Regions from separate parts of the Homo sapiens genome. Here regions 1, 2, 3 and 5 are each linked to region 4. Evidence: fine-mapped expression QTL. A gene starts in region 4. Each other region holds a variant in brackets. All regions are shown on one strand. Distances are between the middles of the regions. Region 1 overlaps COX5A (cytochrome c oxidase subunit 5A). Region 2 has its middle 45 kb from the start of PPCDC. Region 3 holds the start of FAM219B (family with sequence similarity 219 member B). Region 4 holds the start of SCAMP2 (secretory carrier membrane protein 2). Region 5 holds the start of ULK3 (unc-51 like kinase 3).

Region 1 (5,100 bases), 60 kb after region 4:
CCAGCAACTCGGGAGGATGAAGCAGGGGAATTGCTTGAACCCAGGAGGCGGAGGTTGCAGTGAGCCAAGATTGTGCCACTGCACTCCAGCCTGGCGACAGAGCGAGACTCCGCCTCAAAAAAAAAAAAAAAGACAATAAACAACAACAACAAAAAAAACCAAAAAAGCAACAAAAAAAAAAAACTAAGAGCAATACTAATGTCCATTCAAGTTCTTTTTTTTGAGACAGGCTCTCGCTCTGTTGTTGCCTAGGCTGGAGTGTAGTGGCGCAATCACAGCTCACTGCAGCCTCAAATTCTTTGGGCTCAAGCATTCCTTCCTCCCTTGGCTCCCAAAGTGCTGGGATTACAGGTGTGAGCCACCAGCCCTGGCACCATTCAAGTTCTTAAATAAACTTATATACTTCATTCACACATTAAAAAAAAAAAAATCTCGGGCCGGGCTTGGTGGCTCACGCCTGTAATCCCAGCACTTTGGGAGGCCGAGATGGGCAGATCACCAGGTCAGGATATCGAAACCATCCTGGCTAACACGGTGAAACCCCGTCTCTACTAAAAATACAAAAAATTAGCCAGGTGTGGTGGCGGGCGCCTGTGGTCCCACCTAGTTGGGAGGCTGAGGCAGGAGAATGGCGTGAACCCAGGAGGCGGAGCTTGCAGTGAGCAGAGATCACGCCACTGCACTCCAGCCTGGGCAACAGAGCGAGACTCTGTCTCAAAAAAAAAAAAAAAAAAAAAAAAAAAAAATTCTCATGTTATTATATTCCAAAATAAATTACACATCCTGACAAATTACACATACAAATTGCTTTATCAAACTACAGCCCCTTCCCAAAATATTCTGATAAATCCCCTAAGGGAACGTACACTCTAATCTACACCTAATGCAAAATAATACTGTTTTACTAGGAATATTTTGGGCTGGGCGCAGTGGCTCACACCTGTAATGCCAGCACTTTGGGAGGCTGAGACTGGTGGATCACCTGAGTTCAGGAGTTTGTGACCAGCCTGATCAACATTGTGAAACTCCGTCTCTACTAAAAATACAAAAATTAGCTGGGCGTGATGACGGGCGCCTGTAATCTCAGCTACGCGAGAGACTGAGGCAGGAGAATCACTCGAACCCAGGAGGCGGAGGTTGAGGTGAGGTGAGATGATGCCATTGTACTCCAGCCTGGGCGACACAGCAAGACTCTGTCTCAAAGAAAAAAAGAAATGATGTTTACATAGAGTACTGTATGAAAAGCATTTCCATTTTTTTTTTTTTTTTTTGAGATCGAGTCTCACTCTGTCACCCAGGCTGAAATGCAGTGGAACAATCTCAGCTCACTGCAACCTCTGCCTCCTGGATTCAAGTGATTCTCCTGCCTCAGCCTTCTGAGTAGCTGAGACTACAGGCGAGCGCCACTAAGCTTGGCTAAGTTTTGTATTTTGAGTAGAGACGGGATTTCACCACATTGCCCAGGCTGGTCTCGAACTCCTGACCTCCAGTGATCTGCCCACCTCAGCCTCCCAAAGTGCTGGGATTACAGACGCGAGCCACTGCACCCAGCCCCATTTTTTCTTTCTTCTTGTCAAATGGACACTGAATTGAGTTTGGAAATCTGAATTCCTTCTGAACAGCCTCTGGAACAGGTAGGGGGATAGGCGGAGGCAGAAAATTTTATCTTTGGGTATTGAATGCAGCACAACCTAGCACTCAGATACCTCTAGGCTCTTCGCTCTCTCTGTTTGACCCTGGAAAATTAACTTAAGTTTATTTTCCTTATCTGTAAAATGGGGACGCTACCCCCCTTAGCAGATTATGAAGATTAAATGTGAAAACAGGTAGGTTAACACTATGCACTGGTAAGTATTAAACAAATGGTAGCTATAAACTAACCCTTATCTAAAAACGTCTTAGTTGTCTATTTATAGAAATCATAACTTAAAGAAATGAAACCTATCTCAAATCACATTTCCTACTACCTGTATTAGATAAGTGTGGTGTAACTTCCAGTTGTTTAAGGCTTAACATATTTTTATTTATTTACTTTTAGAGATGGGGGTCTTGATATGTTGCCCAGGGTGGTCTTAAACTCCTAGCCTCAAGCAATCCTACCACTCCCAAAATACTAGAATTACAGGTGTGAGCCACCATGCCCAGCCTTAACATACATATATATATATTTTTAAAAACTTCACCCAGAAACCTCTCAACATTGTTGTTCTAAGAACACTGAAATTTAAACATTAGTAATATCCTATATATCTTTAATGCAGTAACTGGCAGGAGGAAGAGTAGCAAAAAAACGAAGCAGAAAAGATCTTCCCAGAGACCTAAATTACCTACATAATCCAAGCCCAGAATGAAGTGGAACATGTACATAAATGGACTAGAAGTGAACACGTTTTAATTTCTTTTTTTTTTTTTTTGAGACAGAGTCTCACCCTGTCGCCCAGGCTGGAGTGCAATGGCACGATTTCGGCTCACTGCAACCTCCACCTCCCGGGTTCAAGTGATTCTCCTGCCTTAGCCTCCCAAGTAGCTGGGATTACAGGCATG[C/T]GCCACCATGTCAGGCTAATTTTTTGTATCTTTAGTAGACACAAAGTTTCACCATGTTAGTCAGGCTGGTCTCGAACTCTTGACCTCATGATCTGCCTGCCTCGGCCTCCCAAAGTGCTGGGATAACAGGCATGAGCCACGGTGCCCAGCCTTAATTTCTACAACAAGAAAAAAATGGATCTCTACACCTAAATATGTCTGGTAAGTATGAACATTTAATCAAAACTACGTGGATATTTAATAAGTCTTACAAGACTAATATTCAAATTTAATATATCAGAAAACAAGGCCAGGTGCGGTGGCTCACACCTGTAATCCCAGCACTTTGGGAGGCTGAGGCAGGCAGATCACTTGAGGCCAGGAGTTCAAGACCAGCCTGGCCAACATGGTGAAACCCTGTCTCTACTAAAATACAAAAAATTAGCCAGGCGTGGTGGCACACCCCTGTAGTCCCAGCTACTTGGAATGCTGAAGGAGGAGAATAGCTTGAACCCAGGGAGGTTGCAGTGAGCCAAGATCGTGCCACTGCATTCCAGCCTGGGCGACAGAGCAAGACTCCGTCTCAAAAAAAAAAATATCTATCTATCTATCTATCTATCTATCTATCTATCTATCTATCTATGTAAAAACATAGATTAGAACAACCATCTAATGCACTATTATCAAGAACTTAGGGCCAGATGCAGTGGCACTAGCCTCGGAGACAGAGTGAGACCCTGTCTCAAAAAAGAAAAAATTATAAGCCACCTCTTCAAAAACTAAAGCTAGCCTTAACTGAATACTGAAAGTGCAAGTATAAAATGATACAATCACTTTGGAAGACGGTTTAAGCAGTTTCTTATCAAGTTAAACACAAACCTACCATATAACACAGTAATTCCACTCCTAAGTATTTACCCAATGAAAGGTCTATGTACTCCTTCCCCAGAGGTAATTACCTGTCCCATCCACAACAGTGCTTCATGATAAGCAATTCGTTTTGTTCACTGCTGGGCATGGATTTGACTACATGAGTGCTAGGCTTTGTTTCCTAACTGTGAATAAGATGACCACCAACAGCAAATCCAAGTCAAGGAGATCACCACCTTCAAGGATTTGATCATATGTCTTCTGGAAGCCAAATTACAAACTGGTTGTATTCCAAAAAGTCTTTTATAAAACAGAACTAGAACTTTGAGAGGCCAAGGCAGGATCGCTTGATGCCAGGACTGAGAGACCAGCTTGGGCAACAAAGACAGACCTCCATTCTCCACAAAAAACTTAAAAAATTAGCGGGGTTTGGTGGTCCCAGCTACTCAGGAGGCTGAGGCGGGAGGATCCCTTGAGCCCAGGGCAACAAGGCTGCAGTGAGCTATGACTGCGCCACTGCACTCTAGCCTAGGTGATAGAGCAACACTCTATATCAAACAAATTAAAATAAATAAAAATTTAAAAACCCATACATCCCTTTCTGAAGGGCTAAAACAGACTCTCCCCACGTGATTTAAATTTTTTTTTTTTTTTTGAGATGGAGTCTCACTCTGTCGCCCAGGCGGGAGTGCAGTGGCGCAATCTCAGCTCACTGCAAGCTCCGCCTCCCAGGTTCACGCCATTCTCCTATCTCAGCCTTCCCAGCAGCTGGGACTACAGGCACTCGCCACCACGCCCGGCTAATTTTTTTGTATTTTTAGTAGAGACGGGGTTTCACCGCGTTAGCCAGGATGGTCTCGATCTCCTGACATTGTGATCCGCCCGCCTCAGCCTACCAAAGTGCTGGGATTACAGGCGTGAGCCACCATGCCCGGCCATGATTTAAATTATATTGTTAAATCCAATAATGGGTAAAGCAGGATCTATTCTATTAGCTATGGACACATCCCCCACATGCTTAACTTTTTTTAGGTAAACTCTACTAGCATTCTCTGCCCCACACACCCCACCCCACTTAAGAACAGGATCTCCACCTAGTATTGAAGCTTGAAAGGCAAATTATTTTGGAAAACAATTACTCAGAGCTTTTACGTAACCTGAAAGTCCCAAAGTAAGAAAAAAGAAGCAGCTGTGAAAAATGAGGACATTTTTAGGGCTTCATCCTAAAAAGCTATTTCTAACACTGCTTTTTGGCATTCAGTTAAGCACTCCATTTAAAAACAAAAAAGGCTAACATATATAGAAAAATAAAAGGGCTCATTGATCCTTTGGGTTTAAATTTAGTTAAATCGGATAGTTTTCCATTTAATAAATAATCAACCCTGACAGGCCCAAAGAATGAACACTTTGGTGGTGGTAACTGTAGGAATGAGGGCACATTAACGAGTTACTGAGGCTGGGTGCAGTGGCTCTCGCTTGTAATCCCAGCACTTTGGGAGGCTGAGGTGGAAGGATGGCTTGAGCCCAGGAGGTTAAGGCTGCAGTGAGCTGTGCCAACTGCACTGCAGCCTGCATGACAGAGCGAGACCCTGTCTCAAAAACAAAAACAAAAACAAAACAAAACCACAACAACAGAAGAAGAAAAAGAAAAATTTGGCTGGGCATGGTGGCTCACACCTGTAATCCCAGCACTTTGGAAGGTGGGAG
Region 2 (5,100 bases), 190 kb after region 4:
AAGTGCAGCTGCAGGTTGGGGGGTGGCAGGTGTCGCAGAGCAGGAGCAGACAGCTGAAATAAAGGTAGACAGTGTGAGAGAGCTAGTGTGAGTAAACCCCTGATAAAAGAACTAATGTCTATAGTACACAAAGGGAGTCACTGGGGACCCCAGGCTCTGTGTAATGCAATACTTAGTGAGGCAGCCTTGTTGGCTGGGGTGGATGCCAGGATTCTTGGTCTTGCAGCTGGGGAGATTGGGGTTGCACAGGTGGAGTGGGTTTGGAGTAGGAATTTCGTGGCCGTGGGAGGGACCAGCTCTGCATTGAAGGGGGGGTCCTGAGCCGGTTGCCAAGTTGCAATAAAAATGTCAGAGTTTTCATAAATGGGCTAGTGAGGAGGGGGCTAGTGAGGAGGGGATGTCTTATCCTCCTAGGGCCCAATGATTTGGTTGTGACCAGATGTGCTATCTGTTTAGAGCAGAGTTTCTATCAGCCTTTACCTAATTGTGTCACTTATCTGGGAGGGAGAGTATCTGTGTCTGTTCCAGGTATCTTGCAGCTTCAGGCACCCACCCCCACACCCCAGTCCACTTTTAGCTTCCCTATCTTAGTGTGCCTAAAGGGAAAGGAATGTGCTTATTAAGGCCCACTGTTTTTACTGGGGCCCATTGTATGAGAGTGAAGTTTGGTGATTACCCAGGAGACTTCCCCCGAATCTCGATCCCCCCCAACCCCCCTCCTTCTGTGCTTGAGCTCTTTATCTGTGATTTACAGGCTGAGCTTTCAGGCGCCATTTGTTAGAAGAGAAGTAATTTCTTTGAACTGCATGAGGTTAGAAAGGGAGCTATTTCTGAGCTGCTTTTTAATAGAAGGAAAGTTTTCTGCCAGGGACTCACTTTACCTTGTCTACCTAAATTTCTTTCTGCCTCCTATAACATTAGGAATTATGGGTGTATAGGGACTTATACCCTCACTAAACAAGTATGTGGAAATTGTGTAACTTGTCAAAGGATAAACCAAAAGGTAATTAGAAAACAGGCCACAGGAGGAAGACCTCCTGGACTAAGACCATTTCAAAGCATTCAAGTATATTTTACAAAAATGCTCAAAGTAGAAAGACGAAAGTATTTACTGGTGATCGTAGATCACCTTTCCAGCTGGGTGGAAGCCTTTTGCCTCCCAACAGCCACCACCAGGTATATGGTCAAAATTATATTAGAACAGATTGCACCTAGCTTTGGCCTGGTGAAAAATATTGATTCAGACAATGAGAGCCACTTTACCTCAAAGGTGTTAAGGGGAATTATGGAAGGTTTACAAATTAGATGGGATTATCACACCCCTTGGCATCCCCCTTCCTCTAGAAAGGTAGAAAGAATGAATCAAACTCTCAAAAAGCATTTCACCAAACTAATCTTAGAAACTAAAATGCTTGGACCAAATGTCTCCCAATAGCACTCTGCAGGATTAGGACAGCTCCAATAAAAGACTTGGGATTGTTCCCTTACAAGTTATTATATGGGCTCCTGTATTTAGGCAGAGCTACAGATCTCCCTACTATGGAAACCAAGGATCAATTCTTAAGAAATTATATACTGGCCATATCCTCCACCCTGTCATCCCTTAGGTTAAAAAGACTTCTAACTCAAACTCCACCTCTTAAGTTTGTGGTTCACCACTTCCAGCCTGGTGACTTCATGCTGATTAAGACTTGGAAATAAGACAAGCTCCACCCAAGCTGGGAAGGTCCCTATCAAGTGCTCCTGACCACTGAGATGGCCCTGCAAACAGCTGAATGGAGGTGGACTCACTATATTCGAGTCAAGGGACTGGTAAAAGAGATCCCGGAAGGGAGGGAAAAAGATCAGTGGAAAGTGCCCGAGTCTAACTTTAACTCTTAACTTTAAGGAACCCTTAAAGTGAACTCTAAGAAAAATCTAAAAAGAAAACATGAGCTGGCCCCATTTCTGGAAATTAACATGGCTGGGATGGGCTAATATACAAAGAGCAGAAGGTCAAA[A/G]TGGAAACTGGCAGCAGACTCTTCTCTACCCAGTCAGGTTGGTGATTAATGTGACCAAGACAGTAGCACCCCAGACTATAAGATTTAATGCCTGCCAGGTTTTACCTTGTGGAAATTTAAAAAATCAGAGACAGATCTCACAGGCAGATAAATATCTTTGCCCTAAACCAAATACAGGTTACAGTAGGGCATCACCCTACCCCAGCTGGGATAATATATGGTGGACTACCCAATTTCAGGGCTGGACAGTAAACATGGGGTGGGTAACTCCAAGCTGGAGACCCCTAAAGAATAAACTACATCTGTCCAAGAGCTCCCTGCCAAATAACTGCCAGAATTTTTTTCTTTTTTTTTGAGACAGAGTCTCCCTTTGTCGCCCAGGCTGGAGTGCAGTGGCTGATCTCGGCTCACTGCAAGCTCTGCCCCTCAGGTTCATGCCATTCTCCTGCCTCAGCCTCCTGAGTAGCTGGGACTACAGGCGTCTGCCACCATGCCCGGCTAATTTTTTGTATTTTTTAGTAGAGATGGGGTTTCACCGTGTTAGCCAGGATGGGCTAGATCTCCTGAACTCATGATCCGCCCGCCTCAGCCTCCCAAAGTGCTGGGATTACAGGTGTGAGCTGCTGTGCCCGGCCCCAAAGCACACTCTCTTGACACTGCATCCTCTCGCTCAGCCTGGGGAGGATGGAGTGGTGTAGCAGTCGAGGGCTTTGCATAACCAGATCAACAAGGATGCCTCATTTACAGGTCCACTCAGTCCATCTTTACTGTATGTATATGTGCTCTGTGCTAGGCACTGTGCCCAGTGCTGCGGACACAGTGGGGAAAAGAATCCACATGCTCCCTGCCCTCAGGGTCCTTTCTGAGATAGCTGCCCACAGGTAAGGAAGAGTAGACACCCTGATAAGCACCATGGAGGAAAAGTACGGGGTACTGAGAGGGGATAACCTTGGAGCCTAATTTAGGCAAGGGCAGGGGTTTTCAGGAAAGACTTCCTGGAGGAGGTAAGTGGAAGCAAGATGAGTGACCAGGAGTTCGCCAGGGGAAGATGAACCAGGGCATTTCAGACCCAGGCTATTACATGTGCAAATGTGGGAAGGGGAAGAGCTGGCTGGGGCACATAAAAGTTTTGTGAGTGGGGCAGAGTGCAGTGGGTGAAGGAGGGCAGATTGAGTAGGGGCCCAGTGAGGCAGGGACTGGGTGGGGATCATGGAGAGGCTCTGGGAAGCCAAGGTGGTACTTGGGAAACAAGAACTCCCTCTTTTTCCCATCAGGTAAATGATAACCACACACTGCATGTAGCCTCCTTAGCTAATAGCTTGGGCTGCATTAATAGTGGTATAGCATGCAGGTCAAAGGAGGTGATTTTTCCTCCTTCTGGCTCAGACTGCATCTGAAGGATTGTGGTCCTTTTGGGGCCCCTGCTGCCCAACATCTGCAGGAGAAGAGCCAGCATGCTGAAGGCTTTGCAAAAGCCAGGCTGGATGAGCAGGGAAGAGCAGCCTCAGGGGACAAGAGTCTATCCTAGAACTCTGAGAAATGACCTGGAGGCAAAGTTCAGCCCCAGAGAAGGAAAATGTCCTGGCACCTAGAGCTTATGGAAATGGAGGGAGTGACTGAGGGAGTGAGCCTCCTGCTCTGGGGAAGTTTGAGGAGACACTGGAGGACTAGAGGTGTGAAGAGGGCCCCTGCTTAGCTTCATGGGTGGCCTAGAATCAGTCCTTGCCATTGCTCGAGCATCTACTGTGTGCTCCCTCCCTTCCACCTTCGTGCTGGAGACTCACCACACATGTCCCCCAAACACAGGATTTTGGACCTCACAAATGGTGGGGCTGACCCAGGCTAGTCTGGGGCGGACTCAGGTCTTTTTTCTGCTCAGACTGCTTTGGGGGAAACCAGGGATTGGGAATAGTGGTGGTCTCAGGCCCATGGGCTGGCTGCTGCTAGTCACCCTCTGAAGTTATCTCCCGGGGCCTGCCTTTCAGAGTCCTGAGTGTGTTCTGGTGCTCTGAACCCTCCAACTGTCAGCCATACCGTCCTCACCTATTCGAAACTTGAGAAGTCAACACATCCCTCTTCCACTTCCCCTTCAACTGTGTGCAGACTGGGACTTCCCAGTCGTCTCTGGGTGTTCCCCAAACAGAAGGCTGCCCTGGCTCTCATACCCCAGACCTCTCACTCTTGGCTGCCTCTGTCTCTGATGTTATGTTAGTCCCCAGGCCCTCACCTTCTTTCTTGGTAATGGCTCCAACTCATTCCCATGGCTCTTTCCCACTGCCATCACCGGGCCTCCAGAGCTGGCTTCCCTGGAGGTCCTGCCACCTACCTTCCACTCCCCGCTTGGCCTGTCTACTCTCTGCTGAGTTCTGAGACCAGGGCCAGTTACAGTTTTTTAAAAAAATTGAAGTATAACACATATGGTAAAGTGCACACATCTTAAGTGTACAGCGTGATGGATTTTTTTTTCTTTTTGAGACAGGGTCTGTCTCTGTCACCCAGGCTGGAGTGTAGTGGTGCAATCACTGCTCGCTGCAACCCAGCCTTGACCTCCTGGGCTCAGGTGATCGTCCCATCTCAGCCTCCTGAGTAGCTAGGATACAAGATTGTGCCGCCATGCCCAGTTAATTTTTGTAGAGATGGGGTTTTGTCATGTTACCTGGGCTGGTCTCGAACTTCTGGGCTCAAGAGATCTGCCCACCTCAGCCTCCCAAAGTGCTGGAGTTACAGGTGAGAGCCACCACACCTGGCTGGCCTGCATGATGGATTTTTAGAGGTGCACACACCTGTGAACCACCACCCAGATCAAGCTCGAGAACTTTTTCAGGCCCATTCTCCCAAAAAGCTCTGTCCTCTAGGCTCCCACAGCTTTACTGTGGGATACTTGGCAGATAATTGCCTTACATTCCAACTAGCTAGAGGGCCGGGACCCCTCCTGTTTGCTGTTTTTGTTTCACCCTGCCAACCTAGCATGGTGCAGTGCTCGTAGGAAGTGCCCCTGAGGCCCATTAGATGGAGGGGTTTAGAGTTCATTCACAGTGTTCCAGAATCTGTGCCCAGTTGTCCCTCAGAAATGTGGGAGAGGTGACAGAGATGGAGGATG
Region 3 (5,100 bases), 31 kb after region 4:
GCAACCTGAAGAGGGACAAAAGGACTCACTTTATGCTGTCTTGAAGGTCAAGCCTGCAAACCATCTTAGAGCTAGGAAGAATAGAGCAAACGGAATTTCTCGAACTGGTCTCAAACAGTTTCTTTTTTGGATTGCCAGCTATAATAAACCATAAAGTGCTATTTTCTGCCTCCATTCAACACTATCTAGCACAGCCTGGGCACAAGAGCTCCCTTTTTGCCTCCCTGAAGCACTATGACAAATACCAATCAAGCTGTCTGCAAGTGTTTTCCTTAGCCACCTTTGTCACCCACCATAAGAACCAGAATTTTCTGTCTTGCCCTTATTAAAGTGACTTCTCCAAACTCTGCTCCAACAGCAGAGGAAAACTACAGAATTCTACCTATCAGCCCACAGCCCAGATGGGGGCCTCTGGCCTGAGAAGCAACAGGTAAGGGCTACCTGCAGGTCACTTTCTAGGGGTCAGTGACTTCAGTGCTCACTGCACTGTGTGAGCTATGAGTGGCCAACAGGGCTCTGTAGGCCTCATGGTGAGCAGGGCCCACCTTGGAGGGTAATGTCTACTGGAGGGTACAGGAAGAAGAGTCCCCAAGACAGCACCAGCAGCAGGAGCATGTTGAAGAGGCCATGGGCTTAGGGGGGATGAGGTCCAAGTCCTCGTCATCTGGAATCTCATCCAGGTGATACCCATCCTGAAGCAGCTGCCGGCTCACATCCTGGTTCACCTGCTAAGAGAAGGAGAGGAGGGAACTATAGGCCAAGATGCAAAGCAGAAGTAACTGCTACCCAAAAGACAGAACCACATTCCGTTACCAGGGCTTCCTGTCCATGTCCCACCCCAGGCCAACCCCACACATCCCTGGACTACAGGAGGAAGTACCACCTTCTCCTACTTGTGCCTCAGCCAGCAGTAAGCCTTAGTACTGTCCAGACTTCACTGTCACTGACCCCCAGGGATCTGTTCTCACTAAATCCTGAGGCATTCATGTAAATATCGAGTTCCCAATATGTTTGAAAATCAGTGCTCTGACAGTTCCCACTGGGAGCCCAGACTAGTCCCTATCAAAGCTGAAGAATATGGGATAATAACAGAACAATGGGCTAGCGTAGTAGAGCATGGGTTACAGTGGAAGGGGGTGGTGAGCAGCTTTGTCTACACACTGCTGGTTAGACTTATCCTTTGATGCCAACAGAGGTGGGTTCCTGCAAAGTGGAATTTGTTGGTTGGTTTCATCAGTTCACTGAACATAAGAAAAATAAGGCTGGGCGTGGTGGCTCACGCCTGTAATCTCAGCATTTTGGGAGGCCGAGGCAGGTGGATCACGAGGTCAGGAGATCGAGACCATCCTGGCTAACATGGTGAAACCCCATCTCTACTAAAAAATAGAAAAAATTAGCCAGGCGTGACGGCGGGCGCCTGTAGTCCCAGCTACTCGGGAGGCTGAGGCAGGAGAATGGCGTGAACCTGGGAGGCGGAGCTTCCAGTGAGCTGAGATCATGCCACTGCACTCCAGCCTGGGCCACAGAGTGAGACTCTGTCTCAAAAAAAAAAAAAAAAAAAAAAAAGAAAAAGAAAAATAAATGAGGCTGGGGAAAGTGTAAGACTTCCTCTTACACACAATCTTTGACACTCAGACATTTAAGGAGGACAAAATTTGCAAACTGCTCTATTCTCTGTGACAGAAACTCAGAGATTAGCCAAGATTTCCAGGAGAGTAAGAAAAGCAAGTGGTGTAGAGTCAGGTCCCCAGCACTTCACCTCTGTCAAAGGGAATGGGCTTCACTTGCCAGGATTTTACATCCCTGTTTTTCTATCTGGGACAGTCACTCTAGAAAAATGTCTACATGGCTATCCCAGGAGTGTTTTAGCCTGAGTTTTCATAGATGGAACAACTGAAGAAACAGAAGTTGTTTGGTCTGGAAGAAAGCAAGCTTGGTGAAAGATGGGCAGGGGAGAGACGGAAATGCTGATCTCAGAGAAACTAGAGTTGCTGTGTGACACTGGAAAGCAGGTCAAGGACCAATGGACCCATTCAGATTAATAAGGAAGATTTCTCTAACAGCTACTCAAAGAAAAAATTCTGTGTGTGTTGAGGGAAGGGTGGGTAGCAAGGCTCCTTGGAGGTGGTCAGTACCCAATTACAAAAAGCATTCAAGTAAGCACAGACTAGCAAACACTTAGCTGGGATCTA[T/C]CAAAAGGGTTCCTTTTGTAAGCTGTGGCCTAGAAGACTTTTATTTTAGAGTCTTATTTTAGAGACAGGGTCTTGCTATATTGTCCAGGCTGGTCTTGGAACTCCTGGGCTCAAGCAATCCTCCTGCCTCAGCCTCCCTAGTAGCTGGGACTACAGGCATGTACCACCATGCCCAGCTTACATGACTTCTGAGATCATTTCTAGCCCTGAGTCTAAATGGTCTCCTCGATTCTCAACAGCCCTCCTTGGTCACCTATACCTCCACCGGGGGAAGAGGGCAGAGTGGAAGATCGTAGAACAGACCAGAAGTCTGGCACAGTGCTGTGCTCACAGCGGGCACCAAACAAGCATTTGGCAGTGGTGGTAATGCTGCCTGCAGCCTGGCCCTGCACAGAAAGGTGTTCTGGACTTGCCTCTGCAGATGAATACCCGGAGGAGTATCTGGATCCCAGCTCCCCATCACTAGGAGAAGAGGAAAACAGTCAGTTCCGGGAGGTACCTGTGGTGCACAGCTGTAAATCATCAGGCGGAGAGCATGCAAGGGCATCTGGAAGACTTTTGAAGCAAAGGCCACACACAACAGAACTCAAGTCCGAACAGGCCTTGAATAATACTGGTTCCCTCAATTGGTTCTGGCAGGGACAGGGTCACTCTCACTAACAATGCAAACATAACAGGGCAGGATGATCCCCCGGACATTGGTGCTCCGAATTCTAGAGCAGCACGATTACCTATGAGTCTTCTAACCAAGCCATCCTGGGAAGGGATATTGTTCAGAAGAGAACGGCCCTGGAATGTACATGAAGGGCCTTGGAGGAGACAGGGAACAAGCAAAGGCATCAGGCGATCTTCAGTCCCAGCCAAGTTGCTTCCCAAGGGGGTATTTCCAAGGGGAGCACTCACCTGTCAGAGTCGAGGGACACCAGGTTTTCATCTGGACTCTGGCTAAGAGCAGTATAGCCCTTGTTAAACTTCACTGACCTGAGGGGAGACGGGGGAGAAGAGACCAAACATAGATGAAAGCATAGGCATTTCACAGGGATAGGCAGAGTCCTCGCCCTGAAGGAGAAAGAATTGACTGCACTACTGACTTGCCTTCTCCCTGGTCACAGCCACCACTGCCTGCAGCTCCATGTACCTGGCTACAGTGCCTCAGAATGTGTATGTTCTCATTCTTTTTTTCTTTTTTTGGAGACAGAGTCTGGCCCTGTCACCCAGGCTGCAGTGCAGTGGCGCGATCTCGGCTCACTGCAATCTCCGCCTACCATGCTCAAGTGATTTTCCTGCCTCAGCCTCTTGAGTAGCTGGGACTACAGGCGTGCCCAGCTAATTTTGTATTTTTAATAGAGACGGGCTTTCACCATGTTGGCCAGGCTGGTCTCGAACTCCTGACTTCAAGTGATCCACCCGCCTCGGCTTCCCAAAGTGCTGGAATTACAGTCGTGAGCCACCACGCCCGGCCTGTATTCTACTCCTCCCATAGGTCTTGGAAAAAAGCACACCTCCCCTTGCCTGATCTAGGAAAAGCACCCTCTCCCCACTTATTTAATCAGAGGACACAAAAACTGCAAGTCTTTGGGTAAAAGGTTAGGGTTAACCTTCACTTCTCCGAGTTTCAACCCTCATCTGTAAAAGGAGGCACTGAATAAGGTTCTATGCAGCTCCGAGTTTACTATTCTGTTAAAAACAAACAAACAAAAACAGGTCTAGCCATTCCCACACTGCTCTTCGTCCTCATTGCTGGGGACTCCAGCCACCATTCTCCTCCCTAACAGAGGAGGAGAATGATAGTGAATGAGCCTGTGCACTCACAGAACTCCCTTATTCCGAAGCCCTTTATCTGATCCTATCACATCCTTAAAGGAAAAGAGAGATTGTTCCTCTTCCCATTTTAAAGATAGTGAACCTGACAGGTTGCATCAGGGGAATCGCTAGCTCGGCCTTAAACCAGAGCACCCTGCCTCCGTCCTGGGGATTAAAGCCTTCTCTAAAGCTGCTGGCACAGAGGAGGTGGCGCCTGCTGAGACCTTTTCCCTGAAGAGTCTGGGCGGTTCGGCGAGGCCCCCAGCATGCCTTTTCTCCGCAGAACGGCCTTGGCCAGGTCCCGGTGCTTCTCTGGAAGTTAAAGGACCCGGGTCAGCCGGGTCTTCCCCACTCCGCCGCGTCTCCCGAAGGCTGGGAGGCCGCTCTTTCCGAACGGATTTTGAGGGGCGAGAGCAGGCTGCAGCTAACCCCTTCCCTCCGGGGCCGAGGCCCAGCGGAGCTCCGGAACCCGCCCTGGGGACGCGGCCGCCCGCCCAGGGAGAAACCTCCCCCGACCATCGGGCCACACTCACGCAGCTTGGCTTGAATGGAGGGTGCGCGCGTCACCATGTATGGCCCCCGCTTTTCCACGGCCGCGGGGGTGCGCTCCCCCAGACGGAGGGCTCTATTACCGATCTGCCCGGAGGGTGGCCCCGCAGCTCCCGGCGCGCGGTCCCGAGCCCCGCTGGGCCGGGGTCCCGGGGTAGACAACCGCAACGCGCGCCCGCTGGGCTCCGCGGTCGCCATGGCCGGGCCCCGCCCTGCCGGATGGTGCAACCCCGCCCGTGGCGAAAGAGTGACCGGCCGAGGGAGAGGCGGGCTCTTTTAACAAGATGGCGGTGCGCAGGCGCAGGTAGTCCCCTTTCGGAGCTCTCCGGTTCGGTAGTCTGAGGACTTGGCCGAAATGTTCCGCCCTTCTTTTCGGGGGGACCGGGCAGTTCCGTTCTCGGTTTTGGGGTAGGCGGCTTGAGCCTGGTGATGGTTAGGCTTAGTTCTGTCTCTAGTGGAAATTAAATACTGATACTGTCGTGGGGCTGCGCGTGTGCGTCGGTCGGGTGCCCACGGTTTGAGTCCTGGCGCGCCGCACTCTGTGCTTCTCGCAGTG
Region 4 (5,100 bases):
GCTCCTGTTGGCTAAGACACCTTGAGACCAAGAAAGAAGCAAAACATTTTCACTCTCCTGACAGCGTATAATTATTTAGTTCAAGTCTCCTTTGATTTTGCTCTGACCCTTGAAGCGATTCAAAGTGGGAAAACTCATGCTGTGAATGACAGGAAGGACTCCTTCAAGGACTTCTCTGACACCTGCAGGAAACTTAAAAGCTGCCAATGACCAAAATAAAGGACAAGCAGGGTGAGTTAATGTGCCTGGTGACATCCTGACAGAGCAGAATATCAGGGCTCATAATTCACCAGTCAGCACAAACAAGCTTCCCTAGAACGGGTTTTGAGCAGACGTGAAACAAGAGGCATAGGAGCTCTGGAGGTAACAGTTCAGCCCCTCATGGTGGAAAAAGATCATCCCTGTGCTCTCAGCTGAAAGGCAGAAAGGTGTGGGCTTTAAGTAGGAAGACTGTCCTGTGGCTCATGCCTGTAATCATAGCACTTTGAGAGGCTGGGGCCAGAGGATTGCTTGAGACCAGGATTTCGAGACCAGCTTGGGCATCACAGCGAGACCCCTTCTCTACAAAAATTTTTTTTAAAAGGAGTCAGGCCCAGTGGCACATTCTTGTAGTCCCAGCTACTCAGGAGACTGAGGTGGGATTCAAATAATCATTTGAATCCTGGAGGTCAAGGCTGCCATGACCTCCACTGTGCTACAGCCTGGGCGACAGAGTGAGACCCTGCCTTAAAAAAGGAAGAAAGAGGGCTGGGCGCAGTGGTTCATGCCTGTAATCCCAGCACTTTGGGAGGCCGAGGCAGGTGGATCACCTGAGGTCGGGAGTTCGAGACCAGCCTGACCAACGTGGAGAAACCCCGTCTCTACTAAAAATACAAAATTAGCCGGTCGTGGTGGTGCATGCCTGTAATCCTAGCTACTCAGGAGGCTGAGGAAGGAGAATTGCTTGAACCCAGGAGGCTGAGGTTGCAGTGAGCCGAGATCGCGCCACTGCACTCCAGCCTGGGCAACAAGAGCAAAACTCTGTCTCAAAAAAAAGAGGCCAGGTGTGGTGGCTCACCCCTGTAATCCCAGCACTTTGGGAGGCTAAGGTGGGTGGATCACTTCAGGCCAGGAGTTTGAGACCAGTCTGGCCAATAAGGTGAAACCCCGTCTCTACTAAAAATACAAAAATTAGCCGGGTGTGGTGGTGCACACCTGTAATCCCAGTTTCTCGGGAGGCTGAAGCACGAGAATCACTTGAACCCAGGAGGCTGAGGCTGCAGTGAGCCGAGATCGCGCTACTGCACTCCAGCCTGGGCGACAGAGCAAGAATTGTCTCAAAAAACAAAACAAAACAAAACAAAAAAAAAGGAAAAGAAAGAAAGCAGGAAGATTGTTTCTTCCTTGATTGCTGTTCAAAAGGTCAGGCCAGGCGTGGTGGCTCACACCTGTAATCCCAGCACTTTGGAAGGCCGAGGCGGATGGATCACCTGAGGTCAGGAGTTTGAGACCAGCCTGGCCAACACGGTGAAACCCCGTCTCTACTAAAAGTATGAAAATTAGCTGGGTGTGGTGGCATACGCCTGTAGTCCCAGCTACTCAGGAGGCTGAAGCAGGAGAATTGCTTGAACTCGGGAGGCAGAGGTTGCAGTGAGCGGAAATCGTGCCAATGCACTCCAGCCTGGGCGACAAAGCGAGACTCCGTCTCAAAAAAAAAAAAAAAAGTCAGGCCAGCTCACACGTCAGTGCATCTCAACTATGTTGCCACCACACACAGTTCCATCAGACAAACGTTCCCTGTGGGTCCAGAATTTTTCACAGTCCCCCGCACCTCTCCTCTCTCCCTAACCCGGGCTCTCCTATCTGGTCAAAACCCACTCCAAACTAGACCCATGGCCAAAATGTGGAATTCTTATCAAGGCCATTTTTCAACTTGGGCTACCTTCCCGCCCTCTCCCATCTTTCTTTCCCTGACAAATCTCAGGGGCTCTCCTGTACTTTATACACTAGTTTGGCTGGTGGTGGAGCGGTGGCAGGTGTCCTGGGCTTTTCCCACATTTTTCCCCTCCACCAGAGGCTTCACCACCTCCTCATATGTTGCTGTCACCCCCTCTTCTAAAGTGACTCAAGACAGGTGTCTATCCAAGAATGAGGGAATGCGATAGCCACATTTCGCTTCTCCCTGACGCTAGGAGACTTCCGGAAGGGTCCGACCGTACCTGCTCCAGTCCCCTTCCCTAGCACAGCCCAGCCTCCGGGTGCTAGAAGACCCCACTGTCTCCAACACTTCAGCGCCCCGCCTCCTCTGCAGTTCCACCTGCTGCTAGTCGCGCCCCTCACGCGTTACGATAGGCCAGACCTCAAAGCCCGCTCTCCCATTGGGCAGATGACCCGTCCCTCCTACGCCACGTCTCCCGGCTCTAGCGAGAGGCCCGGGCGGCGGCCGTGGGCCCTAGGGAAATCTGAGAGCTGGATGGCGGGAGAGGGGCTCTACCTGGAAGGGGTTTACATCCACTGGGTCCGCGAAGGGGTTGGTGTCGAAAGCCGACATGGTGATCGGGGGCCAGCGGGCGAACTCCGCGAACGCTGCTGCCTCCGGGCACCCAGACCCAGCGGCGCTTCGTGTAGACCCTCCACTTCCGGGAGCGAGGCAGCGGTTCTGGCGCAGGCGCGATGCCCTCCCCCGAGGGCGTGGCCCTATGACGGCACCGGGGTCGCTCCGCCCCCCCCCCCCCCCCCCCCGCCCAGCCCACAATAGTGCGGTGGGTGGGCATTCGGCTTCCGTCCACATCTTCGCTCTGCTGGGGATTCAGGGGTCTTGGCTGCGCGGAGCGTCTACGGAGCCAGAGGCGTGGCCGGAGTCCTTCCCAACTGCCTATCAATCTGACACCTTCCAATTTTATGTTTCTAAAGCAAACTCTCAAAAGTGGGACAGGAAACAGCCCCTTCACTTCTCTGTAGACCAAGTTTGGGAAGAAGTCCAAACTGATCCCTGGGCAAAGGACAGGGGTGACAGGTGAGGCCAGAGGCCTTGGGAGAACTAGGAAAGCGCTTCTTCTGCAGAACGTGCTCGGGGAAAGAGAAGTGCCAGGACCATCCAGCAGTCCTCCACCCGAGCTGAGCCTGCTTCTTCTAGGGCTGCTCGCCCTCTGATGTCGTTTCATCGTTTTAGGGACGAGGGTTCCTGGGCCCATCAGCTTTGGGACCTGAGTTGGGACTTGAACCTGGACATCAAACATTTATGAAGTGACTCACGGAATTCAGCAACACAGCCTCAATCATGGGGGAGGTGGCTGCTTCACTCTCCACAGCTCCGCTTTCCCCCGCCCCCGCCCCCCACAGGGTCTCACTGTCGCCCAGGCTGGAGTGCAGTGGTGCAATCATGGCTCACTGCAGCCTCGAGCTCCTGGGCTCAAGCAATCCTCCCACCTCAGCCTCCTGAGTAGCTGGGACTACAGCTGGTCACCACCATACCCAGCTAATTTATGGATTTTTTGTAGAGATGGGGATCTCACTATATTGCCCAGGCTCGTCTCAAACACCTGGGCTGAAGTGATCCTCCCGCCTTGGCTTCCTAAAATGCTAGGATTATACTCATGAACCACTGTCTGGCCAAATCCACCTTATTTATTTGGATCTGTCTGGTATTATTCATCTCTGCTGTCACCGAATCCCAGCCACTGTCATTTTTACCCTGAACTAATACAGTGCTGTTAATTGGTCTATTGTTCTTCATGTTGTAATCAAAGATATGTTTAAAGGGGGCAAAATTATCACAGAACTTTGTTAAAATTTTTCAATTAATTTCCATAAAGGGCTGGGTGCGTGGCTTATGCCTGTAATCCCAGTACTTTGGGAGGCAGAGGTAGGAGGATCACTTGAAGCCAGGAGTTCGAGACCAGCCTAGGCAACATACCAGGACCCTGGCTCTACAAAAAAAAAAAAAAAAAAAAAAAAATATATATATATATATATATATATATATATATACATATACATATCTCACACACACACGTAATTAGCTAGGCATGGTGGCCTGTGCCTGTACTCCCAGCTACTTGGGAGGCTGAGGCAGGAGGACTGTTTGAGCTCAGGAGGTCAAAGCTGCAGTGAGCCATCTTTGCACCACTACACTCCAGCTGAGTGACAGAGTGAGACCCTGTCTCAGTTAAAAAAAAAAAAAAAAAAATCAGGCCAGGCAAGGTGGCTCATGCCTGTAGTCGCAGCACTTTGGGAAGCCAAGGCAGGCAGATCACCTGAGGTCAAGAGTTCGAGACCAGCCTGGCCAATATGGTGAAACCTCATCTCTACTAAAAATACAAAATTAGCTGGGTGTGGTGGTGCACACCTGTAATCCCAGCTACTTGGGAGGCTGAGGCAGGAGAATCGTTTGAACCTGGGAGGCGGAGGTTGCAGTGAGCTAAGATTGCAACATTGCACTCCAGCCTGGGCAAAAAGAGTGAAACTCTGTCTCAAAAAAAAAAAAAAAAAATCATAAAGGCCCAAATTCTTAGTTTGTCTTCAAGGTCCTAAAGGATCTGCCCCTACGTTTCTCCCCTTCTGACCCCTTCTAGCCCCCAACCCCCACCCACTGTTCCAGCCATGCAAGTTCTTTTCAGTTGCTCAAACCTTCCTTGTGCCCTCCTGTCTCAGGGCCTTTACACATGTGTTCCTTCTACCTGGTATGCACTTAACCCATGCCCCACTATCATCCTCTGGTTAACCTCTCCTTACCCTTTAAATGCAAGTTCAGATGCCTTTCTTCAGGAGTAGCTTCCCTTCACTCTCTTGGTTACATCATCACCTCATACCCAACATAAGCTCTCCTATTGCCCTGTACTTTTCCTTCACAATACCCATTGCAGATTGTAATTAATACTAGTATAGGTGGTTCTTTATGCCTGTATCCTCCGCTAGACTGAAAGCTCCATGAGGGTAGGGCTGAGGTCTGTTTTGCTCACTGTTGTGTTTCTGTCACTAACATAGTATAAAGCACATGATACACATTTATTAATTTATTTTTTGTGGGTTTGGGGTTTTTTTTTTTTCCAGACAAAGTCTCACTCTGTCACCCAGGGTGGAGTACAGTGGCATGATCTCAGCTCAGTGCAATCTCCGCCT
Region 5 (5,100 bases), 29 kb before region 4:
AGGGCTGCTGAGTGAGCCCAGGCAGAGGGAGGCCTCTGCACTCTCCAAACCTCATCCCTGCTGTTTCAGACACAGACCTGCCAGTTTTAGGTGGGGCTTCTCCAAGGAGCTCAGTAGAATGTTCTGTGGCTTCAGATCCAGGTGAGAGATATTCCGTTCATGCAGGAATTGCAGGGCGCTAGCTGAGGAGCAGGACCCACGAAGAGAGACAGTTCAGAGCCCATTCCCGCCTGCCTCTCGCCTCCCCGGCTCACATCTGCCTCCTCAAGCCTGCACAACCCCAGTTCCTGCCTGGCTGGTCTAATGTTTTCCATATAAGCACCAAGATCACACCACTTCTAGGAGTTTGCCACCCCACCCGAGTGCCCACCCTCCTTCCCTCTGCCCCTTCACAAGTCTCCCCACCTCTCAGAAGCTTCTCTGGATGCCCCAGCCCTTGAGATCCTGCTCTTTTCCTTGGCACAGCACTTGAGTCCTACCTACAGGACTCTGGAATGTTCTACAAGGTCCTTATATTATGTTCTATGTATGGAAGCCTGAACACCCCACAGAGGGGTTACCCCCTCATCTCTCCCACAGCGTCCTTGAGCAAGGGTTGAGTGTATGAGATAAACAGGACCATAAAATTTCAGGCTGTGCAGGAGGCAGCTGCAATGCGTGCCAAGGCTCTAAGCCTGGGGGAGGGGTGGGATGGTGGGGGGCAGAGAACAAGGGACAGAGTGTCAGGCTGGTGTCACAGGCCTTTACCTAATTGCTGCATGAAGACACGCGCCACCTTCTCAGGCAGAATCCTGCGGGTATGGATGAAGCGAGACAGGTCGCCCCCTGCGCAAAACTCCATGATGAGGTAGATATTGTCACTGTCCCACTGTGTTTAGAGGCAGAGAGGCGGCCTGAAGAGAGTGTCCCTTCTCCAGCTCCCTTTGGCAGCGGCCCCGCCCCAGGCTCACACCTGAAAGTCTTTCAGCTGCACAATGTGGGGATGTCGAATGCCCTTGAGGATCTCAATCTCCGTGAGGAGGTTCTCCACCGATGCCTTGTTCAGACTTTTCTTGGCTACACACTTTATGGCTACCACTTCACGAGTGTCCTTCTGCGAGACAGGAGATTTGGGGACTCTGCCTTGAGGGGGCCAGGACCCTTGTCTGACTGGAAAGGCTCTATCTGGTTCCCTCTGTTCCCCCACCCCGCCCCTCCCCGGGTCTACCTACTGCACACCAGCACCGGGCTTCCCAGCTTTCCCTTGTGAGGCCAGTGAGGAATGCTGATTCTGGAATCCTGGCTTCCCGACACAGCCTCAGCCTGGTCTTCTCCAACCCTCGGCTAGCTGATCCATTTCTTTGCATTCTGGAGTGCTCCCGGCAGAGGCATGTCACTCAGGGTTCTAGAACCGCCCACTCTGCCTCCCAACTGGCTCCAGTCCCAGACTCCTCCCAGCCCACCAGGTAACCTGTTTTGAGCCTGTTCTTCAGCCACTGACCCTGCAGGTGGGTGCAGGTGCGCTCTTTAAGACCTAAGCGTGGCAGTCGGCTCCAACCTCCGCCGAGGGTCAGCTGGGGCGAGGCCGGCCTCCCGCCCCTAACTATTCCCACACTGTCGCTAACCTCTCAGAGTCTCCCCGGCCGGCACCAGCCGAGCTAGCTCGGGCGGGCACGGGGCCATCGGCCGGCACCCACCTTGGCGTAGGCCTTGTACACCGTGGCGTACGTGCCGCTGCCCAGGCGCTCGGTGAGGATGAAGCCGTCCAGGCGCGGGGGACCCCAGCCGGGCCCCGCCATTCCGGCCGCCTGCGCCCGCGCGGGCGCTTCCTCGCTGCGGGCGGCGGTTCCGGCGGGTTGCGGGGCGGGCCGAGCACTGGGTGGCTCCACGCTGCCCCCAGCGCCGCCCGCCGGAAATGCAGCGCGCATCGGGGACGCGGATCCGCCCGGCTCCCGGCGCCCCTCCCCTGTCTCTGGGCCTCGCCGGGTCACGCGCCCCGCCAGTTCCTGCAGGGCCCACGTGGGGATACGGAGGCCCCGCGAGCCTAGAAGTTAACAACGGAGGACGGCCGGCGTGGTCTCCGGGGACTCCTAGCGGGCGCAGAGGCGTCTAGAGATCGCCCACGTGAGGGCGCGGGCGGCGGAGCGGGCGTGTGTGGGGGCGACGGCGTCCGGGAGGCTCCCAGGGCCCCTCCCCAGGACCCGCAGCTCTGAAAGGAGAGCTACTGGCACGAGAAGGCGCCTTTGGAAGAGGCCGCGTTGGCTTCCCAGGCCTCCCAGCTGCTTTTCACTTTTCTGAGGAAGGGCCTTGACCTATTTATTGCATCTTAACTGTCCCCGCTCTCCAATCTTAGCAGCGGCGCCCAGCCCCTAATCCTGTGGGCTGCCCCGTCCTCCCAAGTCCACCAGACATGTGGACCCGTGTTGTCTGAAAATGTTTTTATTTTTACTTAAGCACAAAAATTGAGACGTAACATATACATTTGTACATAGAGGGGAAAAAATACCAGAAAGGAGTTCATAAAACCCCAGCCGCTGCCAGTATCATTCAGTGGCTGGGGCCTGCGGCTGTCTCGGGCCCAGAGCCGGAGGCTAGTTTTGTGGGAAGGCACCCCAGTCCACACACCCACTCGGCAGCCTCGAGGGACAGGGTGCTGGTTTTAAGGGTGGACTCCTACGTGTCCCATCACAGTGACACACCCCCCAGGGTGTGAACCAGACTCCACTGGGTATTAGGGGGCCCTCCGAGAGATGGCTTATCAGTCCCTGCTGAGGGATGCGGTTCTGGACTGGCTGG[C/T]CCTGCCCTTCCTGAAAGTCTGGATGCTGCTGATGGGGAGCATGGGCGGGGCAGGTGGCATCTGAGGCAGAGACAAAGGCAGCCGTCCCTCGGTTCGGGGAGGGGGGGGGGTAGTCACAGCAAACAGGGCCAAACCAACCACACCAGGACAGGCAGACCCCACCCTCCTAGAAGACGCTGGACGCTAGGCAGGACAGCTTGGGGTCAGTGTCCTTGGTCCCTTCCAGTCCCCAAATCCCAACCAACGGCATTGTACATTCAGAAAGTCTGAAGAGAGTAAGGCTCAGCAAGGGGAGGGCTCCAGAGGGCTCAAAGTGCCATCCCCTGCAGGAGGGTGCAGGGGGATAAAGGGCTATTAATCCGTTTCTCAGGAACACGAGGCAGGGAAGAGCTTAAGGCAACCAGCCTTCTCTGGATCCGTTTATGAGGCAGAGAAGAGCTTGAGGCAACCAGCCTTCTCTGGAAGCCTGGAGACCACTGGAGTGACCTGGGGAACAGATCTGTCCACCAGAACCTGTGAGAGGCTTATTCCCAGCCCAGGCAGGAAGGACTGGGCTGTGTCTAAGAAGCCAGATTCAGGCCAGGCCTGCAGGGTGGGGGAGTCAAGGCCCAGGACCCTGGCAGAAAGCTCCAGCTGGGATGGGCCCAGGTCAGCCTGTGATCCCAACTGTGTGGGGGTGTCTGTGTGTGCACAGGACGAAGAGAACTTCAGTCCCACTGCTTCCAGAGACAAAAGAATCCTACCAAACCATCACCAGAGAAGGAAAGAGAGCTTTGTTTTTTTTTGTACATAGAGGGGGAAAAAATTCCCTGTCCCTCCCGTTCCAGGGAGAGCTGGTCGCTGAGGGAGGAGGAAGAGCCACGGCAAGAACCCTGCCAGGTCTGTGCTGGGCACAACCACCACCACATAAGGCACCCACGGAAAGTGCAGCTCAGAAGGCAGGCGAGAGAAAGGCTGAGGGGGAGAGAAGAGAGGAGGACTAATTCCCCTGGAAGGCTCCTTGGGCAGCAGATGAAGCAGCTCTGTGGAAGGTTCTGCTGCTGAAGATGCCCTGGGAAAACTCCTCCTGGGCCTGCTGGAAGCTGGCCCCTGTCCGTCGGTAGAGGGAGTGCACCTGGCGAAGAGGGGTGGGGTGAGAGAAGCCTGTCCTTTGGGCCCACCAGGAAGCCAGCCATCCAGGTTATACTCCCAAAGGGGTCACCAGAAGCCTGGCACTGCCTGACCCCCCACCCAGATCCCTGGAGAAAGGTACTGGACCTTTGGGGGCCTAGGATGCCCAACTGCAGTGGTGAAAAACATCTCGTGGCAAGGGCAGGAAACGGTTGCCTGCCTCCTCCCATTTGCTGTCAGCCCTGCCCACACCACTCACCCGCTGCAGGAGGAAGACTGAGAGCACGGCACAGAGGGTGAAGAAGCCAGCCACCACCATCATGATGACTGATATGGCCAGGGAATGATTATCCAGTGTAGACAGGGCTGCAATCCAACCGCTATAAAGGGAAGAAGAGGCCAGAGGGAGCAAAGTGGGAGTGGGCTCCAAAAGTCAGCATAAGGGGCTCTTCTCCAAGTGGCTGCTGTGTCCTGACCATCACCTTGGCATCTCCCCACAGCACAGGGAGCCCTGTGAGCCAGAAGCCCTTGGCCTGTGAGGCCAGACCTCCGTGAAGGCTGACAGGCCCACACTACCCCATTCACAAGGGGAATCTTCTGGTTATGTGAGGTCTGAAAGGGAGGATGTGGTTGCTGCCTTCACAGAGTCAGAAGTAGCACCGGGCTGGGTGCTATGGCTCTCACCTGTAATCCCAGCACTTTGGGAGGCTGAGGCAGGAGGATCGCTTGAGCCCAAGAGTTCAAGACCAACCTGGGCAACAGAGGGAGGCCCTGTCTCCATAAAAAATAAAAAAAGGCCAGGTTCGTGCCTGTAATCCCAGCACTTTGGGAGGCCAAGGAAGGCAGATCACTTGAGGTCAGGAGTTTGAGACCAGCCTGGCCAACATGGAGAAACCTTGCTCTACTAAAAATACAAAAATTAGCTGCGCGTGGTTGCACACGCCTGCAATCCCAGCTACTCGGGAGACTGAGGCAGGAGAATCACTTGAACCTGGAAGGTGCAGGCTGCAGTGAGCCGAGATCATGCCATTGTACTCCAGCCTAGGTGACAGGGCGAGACTCCAACTCAAAAAAAAAAAAAATTAGCTGGCTGTGGTCATACATGCCTATGCTCCCAGCTACTTGGGATGCTGAGGTAGGAGGATCACTTGAGCCCGTGAGGTTCAAGGCTGCAGTGAGCTGTGATCACGCCACGGCACTCCAGCCTGAGCAAC

What was found. PIP is the estimated chance that this variant, and not a neighbour inherited with it, causes the effect.
Region 1: its variant is fine-mapped to the expression of SCAMP2 in unexposed skin (GTEx, PIP 0.94).
Region 2: its variant is fine-mapped to the expression of SCAMP2 in whole blood (INTERVAL, PIP above 0.99).
Region 3: its variant is fine-mapped to the expression of SCAMP2 in whole blood (INTERVAL, PIP above 0.99). The same link has a PIP of 0.9 or more in testis.
Region 5: its variant is fine-mapped to the expression of SCAMP2 in whole blood (TOPMed, PIP above 0.99). The same link has a PIP of 0.9 or more in blood mononuclear cells and lung.

Annotation. Positions count from the first base shown.
Region 1 is chr15:74,930,301-74,935,400 of GRCh38, forward strand. All of the region lies in intron 1 of COX5A (cytochrome c oxidase subunit 5A), which reads right to left. Among named protein-coding and RNA genes, the nearest start is that of COX5A, 5.2 kb to the right of the region's middle. The variant C/T (reference allele first, on the strand shown) is at 2,545.
Region 2 is chr15:75,065,608-75,070,707 of GRCh38, forward strand. No RefSeq gene overlaps it. Among named protein-coding and RNA genes, the nearest start is that of PPCDC, 45 kb to the left of the region's middle. RefSeq lists enhancers at 3,782-3,891, 3,952-4,211, 4,222-4,311, 4,392-4,491. The variant A/G (reference allele first, on the strand shown) is at 2,001.
Region 3 is chr15:74,902,059-74,907,158 of GRCh38, forward strand. It overlaps MPI (mannose phosphate isomerase), which reads left to right. Exons shown (of 8, transcript NM_002435.3): 8 at 1-161. It overlaps FAM219B (family with sequence similarity 219 member B), which reads right to left and starts at 4,793. Exons shown (of 5, transcript NM_020447.5): 1 at 4,529-4,793; 2 at 4,220-4,307; 3 at 3,096-3,173; 4 at 2,606-2,654; 5 at 1-728. The coding sequence starts at 4,742. The coding sequence ends at 561. RefSeq lists enhancers at 3,403-4,209, 4,210-5,014, 4,856-5,100 and a silencer at 4,496-4,795. The variant T/C (reference allele first, on the strand shown) is at 2,193.
Region 4 is chr15:74,870,726-74,875,825 of GRCh38, forward strand. SCAMP2 (secretory carrier membrane protein 2) reads right to left here and starts at 2,640. Exons shown (of 9, transcript NM_005697.5): 1 at 2,474-2,640. The coding sequence starts at 2,530. RefSeq lists an enhancer at 1-823.
Region 5 is chr15:74,841,328-74,846,427 of GRCh38, forward strand. It overlaps ULK3 (unc-51 like kinase 3), which reads right to left and starts at 1,829. Exons shown (of 16, transcript NM_001099436.4): 1 at 1,677-1,829; 2 at 953-1,093; 3 at 748-868; 4 at 78-182. The coding sequence starts at 1,778. SCAMP2 (secretory carrier membrane protein 2) reads right to left here. Exons shown (of 9, transcript NM_005697.5): 8 at 4,146-4,266; 9 at 2,403-3,890. The coding sequence ends at 3,756. RefSeq lists enhancers at 823-1,348, 1,417-2,328 and a silencer at 1,591-2,310. The variant C/T (reference allele first, on the strand shown) is at 2,776.